2 separate regions of the Homo sapiens genome follow, and region 1 is linked to region 2. Evidence: fine-mapped expression QTL. A gene starts in region 2. The other region holds a variant in brackets. All regions are shown on one strand. Distances are between the middles of the regions. Region 1 overlaps LINC03010 (long intergenic non-protein coding RNA 3010). Region 2 holds the start of LINC03010 (long intergenic non-protein coding RNA 3010).

The links.
Region 1: its variant is fine-mapped to the expression of LINC03010 in spinal cord (GTEx, PIP above 0.99). The same link has a PIP of 0.9 or more in amygdala, anterior cingulate cortex, caudate, hippocampus, hypothalamus and prefrontal cortex.

The regions. Positions count from the first base shown.
Region 1 is chr7:155,396,628-155,406,961 of GRCh38, forward strand. LINC03010 (long intergenic non-protein coding RNA 3010) reads left to right here. Exons shown (of 3, transcript NR_147174.1): 3 at 4,262-5,155. Among named protein-coding and RNA genes, the nearest start is that of LINC03010, 20 kb to the left of the region's middle. The variant G/T (reference allele first, on the strand shown) is at 6,437.
Region 2 is chr7:155,376,163-155,386,496 of GRCh38, forward strand. LINC03010 (long intergenic non-protein coding RNA 3010) reads left to right here and starts at 5,914. Exons shown (of 3, transcript NR_147174.1): 1 at 5,914-6,153. RefSeq lists enhancers at 1,924-2,424, 5,160-5,971, 5,972-6,783.

The sequences.
Region 1 (10,334 bases), 20 kb after region 2:
GCCTATTTAAACCAGACAACCTCAATCTGTACTTAAACACATTGGCACCCACAGGGGGAGCTGACTGAAGGCTGCAACGTGAGTAGCAATACAGCGGTGACGGCCACCGATTATGAAATAGGACACAGGGATACAGCGGAAACACTCCCCGTGGATAGGGCAGGTGGTGAGAGGCTCTTCTCAGAGTCACATTCTGCTGGAGCTGGCTCCTGGCTCACACGAGCCGGCCGTGCACATCTCTGCAGCGCCTGGTTCAGACTCTTCTCTTCTGAGGCTGGAAGTTGGCCTTGGTGGGGGCAGCTCGTGGGGTGCCCCAGAGCCGGTTAGTGACCGTGGCCCCGCACAGCCTGCTTGGTCTCCTGCTGTGTTATCAGGGAATGGGTTCTTGAGCAGCAATTGTGCCCCCGTGGCAAAGGGAAGCGAACACAGACTTAGAGGGTTTGCTTTTTAAACACTTGAGGTCTCACAAGGCCTTAGTCCAGATGTAAGCAGAAAACCTGGGTCTCCATGGCCTCAGACCATCCAGCTCCCAAGCCCAAACCTCACCTTTAACATGGCACAGAATGTTACAAAACTCTTCCCAAGATATCAGTAATAATAGGTCATGTTGATGTGGCTCTTAAGATGGGCCAAGCTCTAGTGCAAAGAACTTTCTATGCATTAATGATTTAATCCTTTCAAAAACCCTATTGGGTGGGTAACAGTGTTTCCCTCCAAGTTGAGGAAACCGAGTGTTACAAGCTGAATTGTGTGTCCCTAAATGCTATGTGGAAGTCCTCACCCCAGAACCTCAGGGCGTGGCCTTATTCAGAAGCAGCGTCCTTGCTGATGGAATGAGTTAGGCTGAGGTCAGGCTGGAGTGGGCAGGGGCTACTCCAACATGACTGTGTCTTTCTGTGTCCGAATTGGTGGGTTATTGGTCTCACTGACTTCAAGAATGAAGCCGCGGACCCTCGCGGTGAGTGTTACAGTTCTTAAAGGCGGCGTGTCCGGAGTTTGTTCCTTCTGGTGGGTTTGTGGTCTCGCTGGCTCAGGAGTGAAGCTGCAGACCTTCGCGTGAGTGTTACAGCTCTTAAGGCAGAGCGTCTGGAGTTGTTCGTTCCTCCCGGTGGGCTCGTGGTCTCGCTGGCTTCAGGAGTGAAGCTGCAGACCTTCGTGGTGAGTGTTACAGCTCATAAAGGCAGTGTGGACCCAAAGAGTGAGCAGCAGCAAGATTTATTGCAAAGAGAGAAAGAACAAAGTTTCCACAGCCTGGAAGGGGACTGGAGCGGGTGGCAACTGCTGGCTCGGGCAGCCTGCCTTTATTCTCTTATCTGGCCCCACCCACATACTGCTGATTGGTAGAGCCGAGTGGTCTGTTTTGACAGGGCGCTGATTGGTGCGTTTACAATCCCTGAGATAGACACAAAGGTTCTCCGAGTTTCCACCAGACTCAGGAGCCCAGCTGGCTTCACCCAGTGGATCTCGCACTGGGGCTGCAGGTGGAGCTGCCTACCAGTCCCGCGCTGTGCGCCTGCACTCCTCAGCCCTTGGGTGGTCGATGGGACTGGGCGCCATGGAGCAGGGGGCAGTGTTCGTTGGGGAGGCTCGGGCTGCACAGGAGCCCACGGAGGCGGGGGGCGGGGGGCGGGGGGGGCGGGGAGGCAGGGGACGGGGGGTGCGGGGAGAGGTTCAGGCATGGCAGGCTGCAGGTCCCAAGCCCTGCCCTGCGGGAAGGCCGCTAAGGCTCGGCGAGAAATTGAGCACAGCAGCTGCTGGCCCAGGTGCTAAGCCCCTCACTGCCTGGGGCCGGTGGGGCTGGCCAGCCACTCCAAGTGCGGAGTCCGCCGAGCCCACGCCCACCCGGAAGTCACGCTGGCCCGCAAGCACCACGCGCAGCCCTGGTTCCCGCCCGCGCCTCTCCCTCCACACCTCCCGGCAAGCTGAGGGGGCCGGCTCCGGCCTTGGCCAGCCCAGGAAGGGGCTCCCACAGTGCAGCGGCGAGCTGAAGGGCTCCTCAAGTGCCGCCAAAGTGGGAGCCCAGGCAGAGGAGGCGCCGAGAGCGAGCGAGGGCTGTGAGGACTGCCAGCACTCTGTCACCTCTCACTTCTAAGACCAGAGGAGACACAGAGACACCTGGGGGAGACCAAGTGGAGACGGAGGCGGAGACGGGAGCAATTTATCCATAAGCCACGTGACGCCAAGAGTTACCAGTGGCACCAGCAGCTAAGAGAGGGCCTGGGACAGACCCTCCCTCGAAATCTCCAGAAGCAGCCAGGCCTGCTGACCCCTGGGTCTCTGCCGTCCAGCCTGCAGAGCTGTGGGAGGATACATTTCCACTGTTTTCAGCCCCCGGGTCTGTGGCACTTTGTGAAGGCTGCCCCCACAGAAGAAGACACTGAGTCTTCGAGAAGTTAGGAAGCCCTGAACCGTCCAAAGACACCAGGAGGGAAAAGGGTGGGAGGCGAGGGGCCAGCCCTCCATGTTCACGTGGCAAGCCGGAGCCAGGCTGGAGCTGAGGCCTCCACTCACCACCCAGGGTGCGCTCCGCTCACTGCCGCCCCCTGCAGGCTACCCCTGCCACCGAATCCCCCCACGTCATGGACTGCAGCCTCGCCAGCTGCCAGCCACACCCTTGCCACGTTCCTCCTCCTGTTCTCCAGCCCTGCCTCTGCTCCTGCTTCCCCTGCTGCGTGGAGACCCAGCACATCTCTTGAGCTGTGTGGCTTCTCTAAGGTGGCATCCGAGAGTTCCGCAGTTTTCCGAGAAGAGATAAACAGAACTTTTTCTCCATGACCAAGATGTCTTTCTCTCCACAACTCTGGTGTTCAATTCTTTTTATGCCAGGGAAACAGTCTCAATTTTACACTTCTACTTAACACCTGACAATTTTCCTGTAACTATTAGTGTTCAGTAGTAGTAACTATTAGGGTTCAGTAGTTGTAACTACTACTACGCAAGGAGGCGTTCTGGCGACCAGAAAAGGCTGAGGAAGGACAGGTGACAGGTGGGGCCACAAACCTCAAGGCAGGAGTGCGGGAGGAAGCACAGCACCTGGGACCACTGGCAGACCCGTCCCCTGCCTCGGAGATGCCTGTCCCTCCCGCTGAGATCACCGCCCGCCTGCCCTAGCACTGACGCACTGACCACGTTGCTGTCCTCAGGGCAACCTGTCTCCCTTCCCCTCTGACTGGCATCCCCCTGCAGACCTGGCCTTTGTGTGCCTAGAGCCGCACACAGTGCCTGACTGTGATAGATGCCAGCCAGGCTTGATCACGGCCACAAGCTCACACTCCGGGGCAGTCAGCCTGGCTCCAGCCCCAGCTCTGGTGCTTCTAGATAGCTGGTGAACCTCTGTGCGCCTCCGTCTCCTCGCTTACAGAGGTAATAGTGCTTGCCTCATTTGGGTGTTATGAGGATGAGGGGAAAAGGACCAACCCTGTGCGATGCTGGGATGTGGCCAGCACCCTGGAGGCAGCCCTAGAAAACTCCCTCCCACCAGCAGCCTAGAGTCCACAGCATTCCCACGGTGCCCGGGGCCGGGCTCCCCCGTCCCATTGCCCTGCCATCCTGGGGCATCACCCTCACCTGGGTGACTGAGGGGCAACAGCCCCACATCCGTGCTGCAGGTGGAGGGAGTGGGAAATGAGAGCGGATGGCAAGCAGCCTCCTCCATGAGGACGAGTCAAGAGGAGAGGGCGTCTCTGCACACCCCCCTGCCACCCCAGCTGCAGCCCCGCTGACACTCGTTGGCCAGGTTCCATTGCTGAAAGGAGTTAGGGGAGTCTGGACACCATGGGACAGTTGGCAGACTCAGCCCCAGGGTGTAAAACACAAAGCAGCTGTCATCTCGGGGCCAAGGTTTGCTTTGCGAAAGAAGCAGAGATGAAGGCCACGTGGAAGCCTCTGTTCGCTTCGTGCACACGATTCTGCACCCACAAACAGCCACGGTGCTAGGGGTTTCCACATGGTGTCCCCTTGACGCTCACAGAACTCCGGGGAGGCTGTGAGGTCACCCCATTTTCTGGATGAACCTCACAGTGGGAGAGGGATTTGTCACGGTCACACAGTCCAAGCATGTAAGAGAAGAGGTGCCTTCAGGACTGGCACCCAGGCGTCACTCCTGTCCCCCACTCCCTCTGCAGAAGCCCCTCAAGCCCACCGTGTGCCTGTTGACTTTCGCCCTGTGCAGCCTGCTCCAGCTCCTGGTGCTGTGCTGCGTGTACCATGCGTGCCCCTGTGGCAACGAGTCACCGACTCATCTCGTTTCCTTCCCGTGCAGATGCTTCGGGTAGCAGCCCAGCGCTCTTCACTGGACTGAAGGCACCTCTTCTCTTTAGAGAGAGAACATTTTCAAAGGTTAAGCCTAAAAATCAGGACAGATTTTACTTTGTTATTGTTGTTTCTTGAGGCCTAATTTTTAAAAAGCCTGTGTGCTGGCTGCTGATGGCCTTGATGAGAAAGTGGCCGTCAATTAAACAGACAAGGGGGAACCGAGGAATCCAGGTCAGCACGATTTCCTGATCTGTGGCAGTGACTGTGACCTGACTGGACTTGAGCTGGAACTTCAAATAACACCATTAGGTCCTAATCATATCAGAGGTGATCTAACATGACTTCCCACACCATCCCCTTTCAAAGATGCAAGTCACATGGGCACGTCTGTAAAATGCTGAAGGCTGCACCGTGTGAGCTGCACAAATTCAAAGTTTTCTGACTTTGCCAGCCCAGTAACACTGCCAGGTGCCAGCTTGTGGCATTTCTGTCAGAAACCCAGCTGGCATGAAAGTGGGTTTTTCATCCAGCCTGGAGTAGCCCCCTGCATTCAGAAATTCTTTGCCTGACTACAGAAGTCTAAATCAGGACTCACTTTCCCCCGAGCTAGAGGAGGAGGAATGTGAAGCCTTGGAAAGAGTCGGCACCATTCTGGGAGTCAGATTAGTACACCCCAAGAAAGGGAGAGTGGCTGGGCCAGCTGCGACACAGTCCCCAACCGCTACCCGTTCCTCCACCGCCCACCAAGCCCAGAGCAGCCTCCCTCAGCCAGAAGACAGCTTGGAGGATGGAAGACTGTTCAACTTGTGGCTTAAGCACATTATTAAAACCAAAGAGGAAAATTCTTTGAAGAGATGGGGTGGAGCTGAATTTAAGAGAAATAATAAAAACCATGACCAGGTTTTTCTGTGTCTGTTTTTCCTCCCTCATTTCTCCAGCAGCCTGGGGAGCACTGATAGAATAATTCCCCGGTGATTTCATCATGGAACTTCCCTTTCATCAACCTTCCACTGATCTACGTTGCCTGTGGAATAAAGTCCAAATGCCTTTGCTTGATTCTCCCTCTTCTTCCTCACCAAGCAAACGCCTTTTTAAACTAATAACGGTGGCCACCTGTGTAGAAAGCAGAAGGAATGAGGCAGGTGTGGGACAGGAAATGAGGTTGCTAAGGTATCAGTCAGCCACTGCTGTGACAAGGCTGCATAACAAATGGCCCCAACATGGAAATGGCTTCCTGCAGCAAACGTGTGTTTTTCTTGCTTTGGGGTCTCTGGGCAATGAGCAGCCCTGCGTCAGGCTGTTGGTCAAGTCTGTTCCACATGTTTCTGATTCTGGGATCAGTGGGGTCTGGGAACACTCTCCTGAGTGGATGGCAGAGATGCCAGAGAGCAAACCAGGCCGTGGATCATACTTAGTGTCTCTGCTTAGATGGGGTATTGTCACTTCTGTTCATGTTCCATTGGCAGCAGTCACCTGGCCAAGGCCAAGTCCCAGGGCAGGAATGTGTACTCCGTCCACCACAGCGGGGACCCTGCAGAACCCCATGGCACAGGTCAGACAGGCACCAATCTGTAACAGGCGGTGAAGAATTGAGAGCCATCTCTGGTTCACCACACATGCACTGTCTGAGTTTTTGGGGGCTGCCCTAGCAAATATTAATACCATGGGTGGCTTAAACAAGAGCTTTCCTTCCTCACAACTCTGGAGGCTGGAAGTCCAAGGCCAAGGTGTCAGCAGGGACTGGTTTCTCTCGACCTCCCCTCCCCCCGCCCCTGCCTTGGCTTGCAGTCAGCAGTCTCCTCACAGGGCATCCCTCTGTGTGTGTCTGTGTCCTAATCCCCCCTTCATATAAGCATACCAGCTATATTACACTAGGGCCTCCCATGTGACCTCATTTAACCTTCATGACCTCTGTGAAGACCCCAGCTTCACATACAGTCACATTCTGAGGTCCCAGGGATCAGGATCCAGCATATGAATTCAGGGGATTCAGCCCACAGCACACACCTTCTTATGTGCTTCCCCTAACCTGTAACATGGCAGGTTATGTGCATAATAGAAGGAAGAGCGGGTCCAGGTGCACAGACTTTCTCTGTTGGGGGCTTGCAACCCATGATGCAATCATGTGGATGCCCAGAAGACCACTAGGACATCCCATTGATCTTCATCATAAGAAATACAA[G/T]AGCAGTGCTGTCTCTGGTCGTGCCCACAGAGAAGGGAGTAAATAGTGAGGATTTTGTAGCCATGGGAACAAGAGGTCCTTCCAGAAGAAATGACCTCTTTGTTCTGGACCTCCAAGGGAGAGCAAGGGTGTTAGGAGCAGGGAGGGGAGGATACTTTGACTGAAAGTCTTTGCGGTGTTGGGGTGTCGTGCGCCTGGCATGGTGGGTGAGGAGGGAGCCGGGCAGAGGGCCTGGAGGGCAGAGAGCATCCCAGGAGGCCATGTTCTTTGGAGGGATTGGGGGCACAGCAGAGAAATGCAAGATTTCACTGGTCACCACGCTGCAACCAGGAGCAGATCTCGGAGAGAGAAAAGTAAGCCCAAATGGCCTCGCACAGGGTTAGAGACCAGGACCAGTACAGGACCCTCCAGGACACTGACAGGACCTGGCATGCAGGCTGGGACCGCTGTCCAATGAAGCTGCCAGGGTTCAAGCCCAAAGCCTCTCCCAGAGACAGAAGTGACCCAGGAGCCAGGGCAGGAGTCCGCAGATGCTGTTGTGCGCCTGGCGGGAGCCGTGGGTGAGCCCAGCAGGGAGGGCTGGCAGCAGACTCTCACTGGCAGCCACTTGGGCCTCTGGCTCCAGGAAGAGATGGGTTTTTGAGTCTTCAGATTAAAGGGCTTTACTCCCAGGGGCTGCGGAGGCTGGACAGAGGGGCTAAGTGGTGGGGACCCAGTAGATCTGTGACAAAGTGTCAGCCTGTGCTGCTGGCATGGGAACAAGGATGAGACCCAGGATTCCTGGCCCCACTGCAGCCTCCCATACCTCTCACCTGGTTTCCCAGGCTCCCCTTGGCCCCAAACCCACCTCACCCACCTCACCCTCATCACACCTGTCAGCTCCAGCCCCTTTCCTGAGCTACCCCATGCCAGGAGCTGGGGCTGAGACTCCCACTGAACCTTAGCTATGGGACCAGGCCAGGTGGCCAGATTCACAGCCCCCCAGTTCTAACAGCCTCTGCGAGTCAGGTGGATTTGATGGGGGGTGGGGGTTGAGCCTGGGAGGAAGCTCAGTCCATGCAGGCAGCCCCCAGCCACTGCCCACCCACCCCTCAGTGGCCCCCTCTCTACTGCGGGGATCCCTGGGGGAGCCCCTTCCTAGGGGCAGGTGCCCTCCTGAGCCTCGGTCACCAGCACCTCCCAGAAGGAAACAAAGGGGTGGGGAGCAGCCTAGGGCTCTGGCCTCGCTGCTGGAGGTGGCTGGAGGGACAGCCACCTCCAGGCACCAGGCAGGGGTCTGGCAGCTAGGGAGTGACAGCGCAGACCTGCTTATTTGCATGCCATATACTGCAGGAGACCTGCCACCGCCAACCCAGGAACAGAGAGGGAGAGACCCGCTCTGGTTTGAAGATGTCAGCACACAGCGGATCAAAAGTTTAGCCTGGAGGCTGCTGTCAGCCACTCAGACGCATAACTTTATACGGTTCCAGAGACGTGTGGTGCAGGAACTATGATGGGGAGACGACAGCAGGAGGAGGGCCATGGGGTGGGGAAGTTGGAGGTGGGCAGCCCCTGCTGGGGCTGGGGATTGGGCTGGTGCAGCCCCAGGCTGGAGGTGGGTGACTCCACCCTTTTATTTTCTGGGGCCTGCAGGTTCGGGTCCCTCAGCCCGGGCAGCAGCGTGGCCTCCACACCACGGGCCCCCCAGCGGGGCCCATCTTCCTGAGAGGTGGGGCGCCTGAGGGACTGCACCAGCATCCCCTTCAAAGCCTTCCCTGTCCCTTTTTTGCCCTCTCCCCAGAACAGCTCCCCCAGGGCGGCTGCTCTCTTCTCCACTGGGCAGGGGAGGAAGCAGGCCCAGCACTCGCCCAGGGAGGTGCCAGGACCAGAGCCCATCCCGGGAGGTGCTGCCACCTGGTCCCGTCCCCACTCACGCTGTGGAGAGGGCTCCTGTGGGTCAGAAGTCAGTTGGCACAGGCCCCCGCCTTCATCCCCAAGTGGTACCCATCATCGTTACATGGCACCTGTGGCCCCACCACCGGGTCAAGGGCTGAGCTCAGGGCCAGCATTCCCGTCTCCCCGTCTGGTGCCTGCCCAGGCCTGCTTGTGGTCTTGTGAGGAGGTGGCTCTGCAGGCTGCGGCCCTGGAAGGGGGATTCAAGCCCACCCGACTTGCTGAGGCAGCATAGGTGAGCGTCCTGCGCCTGGGGTCACCTGCCCCGCTGCCCCGGCCCCAGCACCACCGCCCGGAGGAATTTGTGGGTGTCAGTTCCCTGCTTCTCTCCTATCAGGAAACAGCTGCTTGAAATATTTTTTAAAGGAAAATATGAAGAATCAATTAGAAAGAGAATATCAAACAAGATTTTCTTGTTTAAAAAAATGACAAAATCCCTCCATATTTAAACTGAGTTCGAGAGAACCGTCCTGGTGTCTTTCTGCCTTTTCTGTGCTGCTGGCTTGGAAGCCTGACAGCAATTCTCCCAGTTTCTGAAATCTTTTTTTCACAGTCCACGGGGTGGTGTTTGCGAGACACACAGCAGAGGGCAGAGCTAGAAGGGGAGACGCAGCCGGTCCCTGGGAGAGCCACAGGCTGCCCCCGAACCCTCCACCTGTGTGCTGAGGCACGGTCCCCTCGGCTCGCCCAGTACGACTCGACTGGTTACAGGACCCCAGACTCAGTCCTCGCCCCAGTCACCCCTGCTCAGAGGTGCCAGTGGCTCTGGGCCTCTGCCTTCCTCCAGAGCCCCTTGGCTCAAAAAACCCTCAGCATCTCCCGCCCACAGCCTGTGGGGGCCTGTGCTACCCGGGCAGGGTGGGAACTGCCAGCAGCTCCTGGCCTCCCAGCAGCTCCTTCCTCCTGACACATTCCCCGTCCGGTTGGACCGTCTCCAGGAGTCCACACTCCAGCTCAGCCGGGCCATGCGGATCCCCTCACCGGAGCGTTCTTTAAGGACCAGGGCTGCCGAGCAGGTGATGGGCAGAAGGCCCCACCTCCCCACTGTGAGCCGTGTGTCTTGTGTGACCTTTCTGAGCCTTCGTGTCCTCATCTAGGTGGTGGCATTCGTGAAGCCCACAGGACGCCCCAGCAGGAAGCGGCTGTGGTTCTTGTCACCCCCACCATGGCTGCTGCCTGGCCCCACTTCAACCATGCCCGCCCCTCCGCTCGGCTGCACACAGTTTTGCTCCTCATTACAGGCTTCTCCACAGGTTTTCCTCCTGAACCATGTGGATTCTTCTTGTCTTCCCAAATCCACCAACCTCTCTGAGGGCAGGGATCAGGCATTCTTCTCAGTGTTTACTTGTGAAAGCATCTAGCAGAACTGGGGGCCTACAGACCACCTCAGAAATGGTTTGAAAGCAGAAAGTGCTACCATATGCAGTTGAAATTCCCAGGCAATTATGCATGTAAAAATTCCTGGTTGTATACATGGAACATCAAAGATCAGAAGGAAAGAATCAAATGCCTGACTGTGCTATGATAGCGCCATTTCCTTTAACTCGTTTCACAAACGCAGATAGAGCGCTTACCCCGAACCAGGCATGTTGCTGCGTGATTGATAAATATTAACTAAATTAATCTTTGAAACCACCCCATGAGGTGGGTATTATTGTTGTCACCCTTTCAAAAATGTGGAAACCGGGGTGGGGAGATGTTAAGACGCTCAGTCAAGGTCACACAGCTCACCCGCGGTAGAGCTGGGGTTCAAATGCAAGTGGTCTCGGTCCAGTGTTTACGGCTTTAAGGTGTGTTGGCTCCAGGGATGAGTCTTCATTTCTTCTGGGGGCTGCGGTTATGAAGAGACCGGCCCCAGACCCAGAGCCAATGCCGCCAGGCACTTTCTGAGAGGAGCAGCGGCGGTGTGAGAGTGTGGAGTGTGAGAGTGTGGGGTGTGAGAGTGTGGGGTGTGAGAGTGTGGGGG
Region 2 (10,334 bases):
AGCCCAGCAGTCCTGTGATGTAGTGAGTCAATCCAAGACCCAAATGTAGGCAGGAGGCATCCTTGCTTCCTTCAAGAACAAGTCAGAGAATCAAGTAAGGAGGAAATAAGTGACATGCTAGTGAAGGCACAGTTATCTAGATGGTTGTTATGGGGTTCTCGTCTCGCCAAGCTTTAGATAGATCTGTTTCCGGAAAGCTCACTTTTAAAAAAATCAGATTTGAAGATTGTTGGAATTCTGGCTCTTTATAGTGAGTCACATCTCTATAGTCAGTTCATTTTCACTCGCATATGAGGTCTCAGTTTGAGCATCATGTTTTAAACTGTCTGCAATTTGATTTACTGGAAATACACCTCTACAGAGAAGGTGTAGTCTTTCCTGGTTCCATTCCCAATAGTATGAGGGTTATGTGTGAAGTTATTTGCATTTGTGTTCTCTGTCATTTTCAAATCACGGAATTTAAGAAGTATGTATAAATAGATTAAGTGCACAATAATACAACAAACCTAAAAGAGTTGGCAAATTAAACCTTGAAATTCTTTACAAAATTCCATATCTTATAAAGGACAACCATTAAGGGGACTTTGGTGTCAATATTTTCTGTAATGCAAGCCCTTTAATACTTTTCCACCACAACCTAAATTTGTCTGTAATCAAGCTACTGAGATAGGAATGCTGCATTCTCATTTTCCTCCTCCTATAAGCCTCTGTACCAAAACATTCAAAGGCCAGGCATTTACTTTTTATTTATACATATTAAAAATTTCTTCCAGGAGTGAAGTTTCCAAACACAACGTGTCTGGACAGGAAGCAAATGTTGTTTTAGGGGAAAGTTCTAATAACCCCATTTATGCAAGCACATTAGAGCAGAAAGAATCATTTCTGTTAGTTAACATTTTTGAGCCAGAAAATTAAAAACAAATATTTAACTTCCCAATTTGGAATTCAGGCTGGCATTGACGTCTAAACTTTGACAATGCATACTCAATGAATTAAACACAATCTCTACTAGCCAAATAAAACTGCCTTCATGTGGCTCAAAATAAGTTTGAATAAACTGAAAGATAAATAAAATGCACGGGGGACACCCAGGAAGAGAGCTGATGTGTGTGAGCTTGGCCAAAAGACGGCTTTTGGACTCTGCTCAACTCAGGGGTTTTATGACACCTAATAAAGCTATACTTAGAGAAGACAAATATTCAATAAATATGAGCACATACTTACAAACATATGTACTGTTTTCACTTTTCTTCTTCCAAACCTACTTTTACAGCAGTTTATTATTGGATATGAATTTCCCCTTCTCCATTTCTCATCACAAATTAGGTGGGCTCCTAAAGCGTCCCATTTCTCCCTTTAGATTTGGGGCCCCCCAGCTGATAAAGGAGTTGTGATTGCAGGTGGATTTGATCTGATTTCCCCTGAACAGGCTGGCGGTGGGAAGCAGGCATTGGAGTCCCACGGCTCACTGGACTGCAGCAGCGAGCCCTTCACGGTTGCAAAGGAAGGAAATTCCTAGCGGGGCAACTCTTCAGCGTCCGCCCCACAGACCTAGCACGATGTCCTTTTCTGTCTCAAGATACATCTGGCTGGGCTTCCCTAAAACCGGGCTTAGTTGGACTCCTTGGACCTGGGGATGAATTCTTGCCAACTATCTCCAAATATTTCCCCTACACCATGCCAGTGCAATTCATGTCTCCAAACCCCCTCTCCTCCACAAAAACGAAACAAAACAAAACCCCAGGTCCAGGAGCTCAGGCCCAGGCCGGATCCAAGACGCGGCAGCCAGGCAGCCCCGCCGCGAGCCTGTGCGGGCTTGAGCCGGCTTGGCCCCCGGAAGCCCCAGCCCCGCGCTCGGCAGCGTGCGCCCAGCGCCCAGAAGAAGCAGCTCCAGGCGGCCGCGCTCCCCGTCCCGCCGCGGTGCGGTCGGATGCCCAGCTCGCGTCCAGACCCGCGGGATGCAGACCCGGATCAGTCAGGCTTGAGGGCTGCTCCGCATAGACCAACGTCCGGGGAAGGCACACAGTGGCCGAGGGCCCGCGCGCTTGGGCTACGGCTGTGATGGTATCTGCGCTGCTTGCGCCTTGGGGATGGGAGGCCGCCTTTGCTGACTGAAGGGCCTGAAGAGGAGGCTTCTGGGGTCCCTGTAGCCTCACCCTGGATTCACAAAATCAAACACTATCTCCTTTCCCCTTCACCACCCCCACCCCACGAATACACATGGTGAAGAGAGGTTCACTTCTGTTCCTGTTGCTGAGTTTCAGCTATGCCCCTCGGCCTCGGAGGATGGCTCACCTTTACTGTGAATTTCTAGCTGAAAGAACAATGCTGAGAACAGGGATAACAAGAGGACCTCTCTAACAAATGCATCTGCTAGTTACAAAAGGGCTGGGAAGAACGGCTCAGGGACATTCCTCCCAGACCCAAGGAAAGGGAATGGAGACACATTTTGATGTTTTCTACATACTTGGTCAACTTGCAGCTACTATAGAACCCGCTCCCCACGGCCAGCTCTTCCTCCTGTTTTAGGGAGAATTTTGTTCAACATTCTACATTCTAGGGACCCTTCCTCATCAGATTAAGTGCAGAGTTACAGCAAAATAAGTCAGAGGAGAAGGATGGGGTAGAGATGGAGCGGAAGCTGGCGCTGGAGCCACTGTGTCCTGCCGGCTGCACCTGCACTCAATCTCAGGTACCATGCTGGACAGTGGGGAAAACAAAAACCTGGAGAACAGCCCAGAAAACTCCGCCAAGGTTTTATAGCTTAAAGATGGGGAGAGGAGGAGGCAGGAAGGGTTGGGCTCTGCAGGCCTTTAGAACGATCGGAGGTCTAATGAAAATAAATACCTTGTAAACATGTGGGTACCAAGTAACCAGAAGAGAGCTTAGACCAAGAAGGTCGGGGGGTCTTTTCCCACCTGTGAGAAAATAAGAGATCCTGGAGCTCTGCAGCCTTAGCAATGAACTGGATTACTGATTAGTGTTTAGAGGCACCCATGCATGAGTTGGCAAACCAAGCCATTGAAATGTGGAATCAGCAGGATCTGGCTTTTTGAATGTCCATTACTTCTCATGTACATGCATATCTATGTTAAATATGGAAAAGAAGAAAAAATTTAAAAGAGAAACAGAACCCTGCTTTACCAGATTAATCAAAATGGAATGATAGATTCTTGAGTTTGAAATAACCCCCGCCCCAGGAATTCTCCAGCGTCTCTGCAAGAAGCTCTCAGACAGACAGCAGTTAAACAAGGTCGGCAAAACCGACTCTCAGATTCAACAAACTGCTCTTTCTGTTTCTGCAACAGGAAGAAAACATTCCACGAGCTGATGGAAGCCCTCACAGACATACATCTGTTATGGCTTTCCCAGAATCCTGACCCCTGGACAATTCTTTTGGGAACACCCTTCTCTATCTAAGGAAAATGACATTCCTAAACCCTGCCCTGCCACCTCACATATGCAGAGTCTGAAAGGGAAGCCAAAACCCCTTGGTCATCCTCACTCTCAGCCCTCTGCCCAAAAGGGGGAACTTTGATCAAATGCAACTTTCTTCTCCTTTGGCCCCAAGCTTCTGTGCCCTCAGTTCACACTCACCCAGAATGCAAAAGCATTTGGATTCAGTGCTGTCCCCTCTGGCTTTCTGTCTGTCATTTGGCCTGGAAAGGACGGTCAGAAATGCCATGGACAGTTACAATTCGACTCAGTAACTTCCACATGGCTCATGAATGTCCTTGGCCACCCGGGAACTGCAGCCCTCTGCCCCCCAAGTTAATTGCTAAATGATTTGCAAACTTAAACAATTATACATTCTCTCTTGACTTGCCCCGAAGAAATCATGTTAATTTATGACACACTCACATGATCCTGATTAACAAACCTAGACTAAATTTGCATGTGGCAAAATGCAATACAGATATATATTTTAAAAAATAATATAAGCAGGTTTTTGCCAACTCTTTTCTCCCACGGTTTAATGACCTACCATCCTGGTTCATACGTTTTTTAACACCTGACTTTGGATATTTTTTTAAAATGAATCGATTTGTAGTCATTGCCTGGCTGCCTGTGGGGAAGGAGCTCCTGCCGTTGGCAGACACCTCTGCAGCCAGGCGTGGGGTGTCCTTCCATCAAAGCAACGCCAGGGGGCAAGAAGCGTTAACAAAGCCCGGGACGCTCCGCACTCTCCCTTTATCTACCCGTGTGTGCGTGTCACACTTTCCAGGGCGAAATGTCATTTTGCAAGGTTATACATTTCCAATTCCTCATAGAGCCTTATCGCTCATCATTTACCTCTTGGGCACAAACAAACAGCCTCTTTAAATAAAGCCAGGGAAGGGAAGCATATACCTTTGTACAATTAAAAATAGCACAAGAATGCCAAAATGTATTGGACCTTGCTGTTAATCCGACTTACCTGGCTGACACTCTGGCCTAATCCTATTTTCTCCTCGCATTAGAATGACTCTACAAGGCTACGTTTTGTTCTTCGGGAGCACAGTTTACCTGGCCAGTGGGCTGAGGATCAGAGAAGCCTCACCACCTAAGGTGGGGAGAGGGGCTGCAGACTGCCCAGCCTGGCCCCAGCCTGCTGGAGGTCCCAGTGCAGAGCCTGCTTGGCGAGACAGAAAGCAAACGAAATCACTCAAGGGAAACTTCGCTGGAGACAAAACACATTCAATTTCCTGAGGATTCTGCTTTCTCTCAGGAATTATTTGCTTTTGCCGAGGCACATTAAACAAATTAAACACTAAAAATGGAAGCTCCTTTGCTTCCTGGCTCAGAAAATAGTTTTTTTTTTAAAGGATATAGTACGAACAGTAATACAAATGAAAGAAAACAGTAACACTCTAGCTCTTTAAAATAAACTCATGTGGGCACCTAAAGTCCTTTTTGGCAAATTCTTATCTTGTGGGGCAGTGCAGACAATGGGAGCTTGTGCTAAACGGCTGCTGTCACTCTGCTGACATTCCAGGAAGCTTCCACGCAGCTACTTGGGCATCTTTTCACACCTTCACCTTCCAAACCGCAGTCCCTGGTGATCCTGACTTTTGCAGCCTGGCTCTGGGTCCACACGGGGCTGGAGAAGGGGATTCGGTCTGAATGGGTTCGTGGAGGGTGGGGCAGGGGGCTGAGCTGAGGAACGCGCTGGCGAGGGAGTCAGATACTGTTACTTCGTATTTTAGGAATGTATTTCTCCTGCACACCCCTCCCTCCCCTGCCCACCCCCCTCTCCCAGTATCATTGCTCTTTGAAATGTCATGAACTTGGCGCTTTCAGACCAAACCGCCGGGCTCAGGCCCGAGACAATGGGATTGTCAGAGGGCCAGCGCGGAGCTTTTTCTGCGTGTTCACGGAGCGTTAAGCCTTTATCCCACAGAACGGCTCTGTCTGACCGGGTCAGACAAAAGCCAACTTGCATCTTCCGCTCCGAGGGGATCTGGGCAGAGCCCGGGTACAGCCCTGCGCGGCCCCAGGGAGAGGGGGGAGAGGGCGCGTGTCCCCAGCCCTGCCAAGTGGCGTGGGGAGCGCGAGGCCCTCCTCGGTCAGAGCCACCAACTCTGGTCTCCGTGGACATCCCCCTTCCCCCGCCCGCTCCCGAGGCTCTAGGGCGGCCTCCTGGCCGCTGCCTTCTCGCACCCAGGGTCTTCGGCCTGGGCTCCACACCTCAGGCCCCTCAAGTAATCGGCCTCTTGGTGGCCGGGCACTGCCTTTCCGGCTGCTCTCTGCACCCGTCTGCCCCTCCGGCCTCCCCTGGCGGCTACAGGCGTCCGGGGCCCTCGCTCCCCAGCTCCAGGCGTCCCGGGAGCCAGGCGCGCAGCGGGGCGAGTTCTCGTGTCCGTGTGAGCGCGGGCGTGTGTATGCGTGCGCGTGCACGAGCGTGAGTGTGCGTGAGCGTGAGTTTGAGTGTGCATGCGGGTGTGAATGTGTACATGTACACGAATGTGAGTGTGAGTGTGCATGAGCGTGAGCGTGCGTGTGCGTGCGAGTGTGCACGAGCGTGACTGTGAGTGTGCGTGCGTGGAAGCGCGGCGGGGAGCCTGGCTGAAGGCCTGCTGCCTGCATGGCTGTCAGAGAAAAACAGAAGTGGGAGCCTGCTGCGGGCTCCGAGAGGACTTGATGGGAGCCCTGGCGCGCGCTGGGCACCGCGCGGTGAGTGTCGGGGGTGGGGGCCGCGGGTCTCCAGCAGCCCCTGCCCTGTGCGGACCGCCGCCCCGAGGGTCCCTGCTTGCGGGTCCGGGGCTGGGCGTGCCTGGCTCCCCCTTGCCCCCTGCTCCACCGGCAGGATTCAAGGGACGAGAGCTCTGGGCTGCGGAGAGTTGCCCTGGCTGGCCCCGTCCTGCAGCAAAGGGCGGGCGGCGCGAGTGGAGTGTGCGGGGCAGGCTGGGCGGCAGAGGGAGCCCAGGGGAGCCCATGGCATGGCACCGCCAGTGTGGGCTTATGAGGAGGTGCAGGCCGGGACCTCAGGCTGTGGGCAGGACCGCAGGCAGCGGCTGGCAGGCTCCAGGCAGGCTCTGGAGGACCCGGGATTTAGGTATTTATGCAGTGAGAAGGCAGGGGTTTGGGTGTTCTTTCTCCCCTCTTCCTCCTTGGAATTCAATTTCTTCGAAGGGCAGGGGGCAGGCCGGGAGGGAGGGACAGAGAAAGAGGCCGCGAGCCACAAATGCCGCCCCCCATCTGTTCAGTAGGGCTCACTTCCTGAGGCAGGGGTCCCTAGCACAGGGTCTGGGGAAGGCAAGGTGGGGGGTATAGGCTACCCAGATAAGGAGGGACTTGCTAGGTAGTGGCCCTGGGTCTTGAGGGGCTGGTTCCATCCCGATTGGTCCCCTGGTGCCTGGAGGGCTGTGGAGGGTCCCAGGCCTAGAGTTGGGGGCTGAGTGGGAGGACGGGCCTCACAACCTGGGATTTCTTTCCAGCTTCTGGGTCTGGATCTGGGCCTCCAGTCCCCAGCTGTGAAGCAGGAAGGGAGGGAGGGAGCCTTTCTGAGACCCTCCAGCCTCTACCCTGCAGGAAGAGGTGGATGTAACCTTGAGCATAACCTTGAGCAAGTCTTCCCAGCTTTTTAGGCCTCCACTTCCTCACCTGTAAAAGGAGCTGATGGGGGTAGACCATGTCGAATGTTACTTCTGGCTGAAACATTTTTTGTTGTGTTTTGTTTTAATTTGTGCAGAGTTGGACCTACTCTCTCATGGTGCAAATTTATTTCATTTCAGTTTCCGAGGCCAGGCATAGAATCCCTGTATATTCCCAGGGACAGTGACGCCTTATGCAGAGGATGGGCAACATAGAAAATAACCCTACCTGGGGGCACAGACAACTTATTCTTTAAAATGACCAAATGAAGCTAAATTGAAACAAAATTTTTTTTAAGTGAAATGAAACCAGTGATGCTGAGACTGAGTTGGCAGGCTGGGGAGGAAGACCTGGAAGCGTGTGTGGGCTCTCTGGGGAGTGCTCCTGGCTGGGTGCGGTCTCGGGTGGCCAGGCTGGGCAGAGGCGTTTCAGGATTTGATGGGAATCTTTGGCCTTGAGCTGTCTCCCCTACCTGCAAAGGCCAAGGCCTTCCCTCCACTGGCTGAAGTTGGTTGGGCTCTGCCCATCCATCCGAGCCTGCAAATTACTCACGGGGGGCTGCTAGTGCTGCCTGTGCAGGCTGGGGCCAGATGGGAACACTTTGTGGGGGCTGGCCAGCCTGGGACAGCAAGCAGCTGCTAGATTATTCCAACCCCTTTCTGTGTTCTTCACACCAGCAGGGGCTGGGGAGGCCGAGAGCCACAGCACAGCTTCAGAGAGGCCCCTTGGAGGTGTTCACAAACCCCCTGCTTCCCAGGAGGGGCACCCAGGTGTAGTTCCAGCCTAGCCTCTTTTCCCACGCCCGCCTTCTCTGGGGGGTGTCTCTGGGGGGTGTCTGGTCTGCGGAGCAGGGTCCAGACTTGCTTGTCTCCACGCTTCTCAACGCCTCCCCTCCACTGCCTCCTGCCTGGCTTCTCAGCAGCGGTGGGTGCTGGAGGTGGACTGGGTCATCTCCCCAGCCTCCCCAGCCTCCCCAGTCCTGCTCACCTGTTGGGGAATCACTGCCTGATTGTCACTTTACCCCTCTGCATCAGCTTCCCGGCATTGCCTTAGCGAAGTGCCACAAACCGGGGGGCCTACACAACAGGAATGTGTTCCCCCACAGGACCGGAGTCCAAAGTCCAGGCGTGGGCAGGGCCCTTCCCGCCCTGTTGGCCTCTGCTGTCTCCAGGAACGCTTGCTCCCTGGGCTCAGAGGTGCAGCATCCCAAAGCCACCTCTGCCTTCGCCATGTGGCTCTCACATGGTGCGCGTCTGCCCTTCCCATCCCGGCTCCTGAAGGAGAGCACTTGGAGAAAAGTGGGGATGCTCTATTGCTGCTCTCCCCACTGCTTGGTGTACCCCTGACGCCCTCCTGGGCCCTCACACCCTGGAGCACCCTGTCCCTGCACCCGCCCTGAACCAGAATCCAGGTCCAGCCAGGGCTGCAGCACAGCAGCACCAACGACGGGCGCATGGGGACAATAGCTGGAGGAGATTTGGGGCTCAGAAGAGAGGGGCTCCGGGGAACCCTCAATTGCTCATTTTGGCAGCATCTCCACTGGGTCTACATGCCAGGCAGCACACAGCCAGGACTTCAGGTTGTGTCCCCTGACTCGGAGTGGAGAAGGGGCAGGTGCTGGACCTGCAAACCTCAGACCCCACGCCTGGCTCCTGCTCTGTCTACGGTGTTTGGGAATTCACTTGGCCTCCAGGAATCGGCTTTCTCCTCTGTGAGATGGGAAGGCCATTCGGTATCCTAAGTACCCAATGGGCTGAAGATCAAACAAGATACAGGGTACGTGAGTTCTAAGAGCAAGGCTGAGTGTCACTGTTGGGGGCGGGGGTCCTTGCTCCCAGAGCTCCCAAGATGGTGGCGGGTGGCTTCCAAGATGGCAGCAAGCCTCTTGCTCTCTGACCTGGGGTTCTTGGCTTCACGGATTCCAAGGAATGAACCCTTGGGCCATGTGGTGAGTGTCATAGCTCTATTAGAAGCCGTGGGTCACAGAAGAGAACCGCGGAACCCAGCGACTAGTGTTCAGCTCGATTAGGATGAACCCGGGCACTTAGCCGTGCAGGAACAATGGTGAGCCTTTAGCCCGATCGGGAGCGGCAATGGGCGCCTCGCTGGATCAGAAGCGCAGTGGACACCCTGCTGGATCCGGAGGGATGGAAGTCGGCGGCGGGTCTGCGACGGCGGCAAACAGCAGTGGTGGACGGCGAGTGAAAGCTCAGCTCCAGCCATAACAAACACGGACCAGAAGAGTGGGCAGTTGCAAGATTTAATAGAGTGAAAACAGAGCTCCCATACAAACGGAGGGGACCCAAAGAGGGTAGCCATTGCCGGCTCGAATGCCTGGGTTTATATCCGGATCACTGTCCCTCCCGCTGTGCTCTCAGGCAATAGATGATTGGCTATTTCTTTACCTCCTGCTTTTGCCTAATTAGCATTTTGGTGAGCTCTCTTTACTACCTGATTGGTCGGTTGTGAGCTAAGTTGCAAGCCCCGTGTTTAGCGGTGGATGCGGTCACCTTCCCAGCTAGGCTTAGGGATTCTTAGTCAGCCTGGGAAATCCAGCTAGTCCTGTCTCTCACCACCTGGGAGCTTTGGCTCTTTGGGTGGTTCTAAACAGCATCAAGGTTGAGACCAATGTTATCTTTGGGGTCTCCACCCCCTGAAAACTGCCCCTACTTGCTAGTTCCTGCCAGGAAGACCCAGGTGATCAGCTTCCCTCAAAGCCCAGGGCAGAAGCACTCTGGTGGCCCCAGGTGCCTAGAGACAGGCAGAAGGGAGACACCCATGAGTCACTCCTCCACTTCTTCCAGAGACCATGCCGTTTTTTTCTTGTTTGTTTTTTGAAAGTGTCAAAAAGCCATGAGCACAAAGGCTCCCCTCTGCGCTGTGACTCTGGGAATCTGGAATAGAAACAGAAGCTCTCATCCCCAGGGACACCTTTCCTGGCACTGCTCCCCAGCCTCCTCCCAGCTCCAGGCTGAGAAGGGCGTCCCTCCTCCGTGTCCCTGCAGCAGCCAGCACCGAGGTCTGCCTCCACCCTAGCCACAGTGTGCTGCCATGTTGTGTTTCTGGGCCTGTCCCCAATGTCAAATCCTAGAGGCTAGGCCTCTTGTCTCTGTATCTCCAGGACAACAGGGTGTTTCACAGGCCTGCAGGCAGCAGGTGCTTAACAAACGGGTGTGAATGCAACCCTGGTCACCTCTCTGTCCATGGGGATGAGGAAGCTCTCCCCTTTGCCTGGAAGTTGTATTCCAAAAAGACATGAC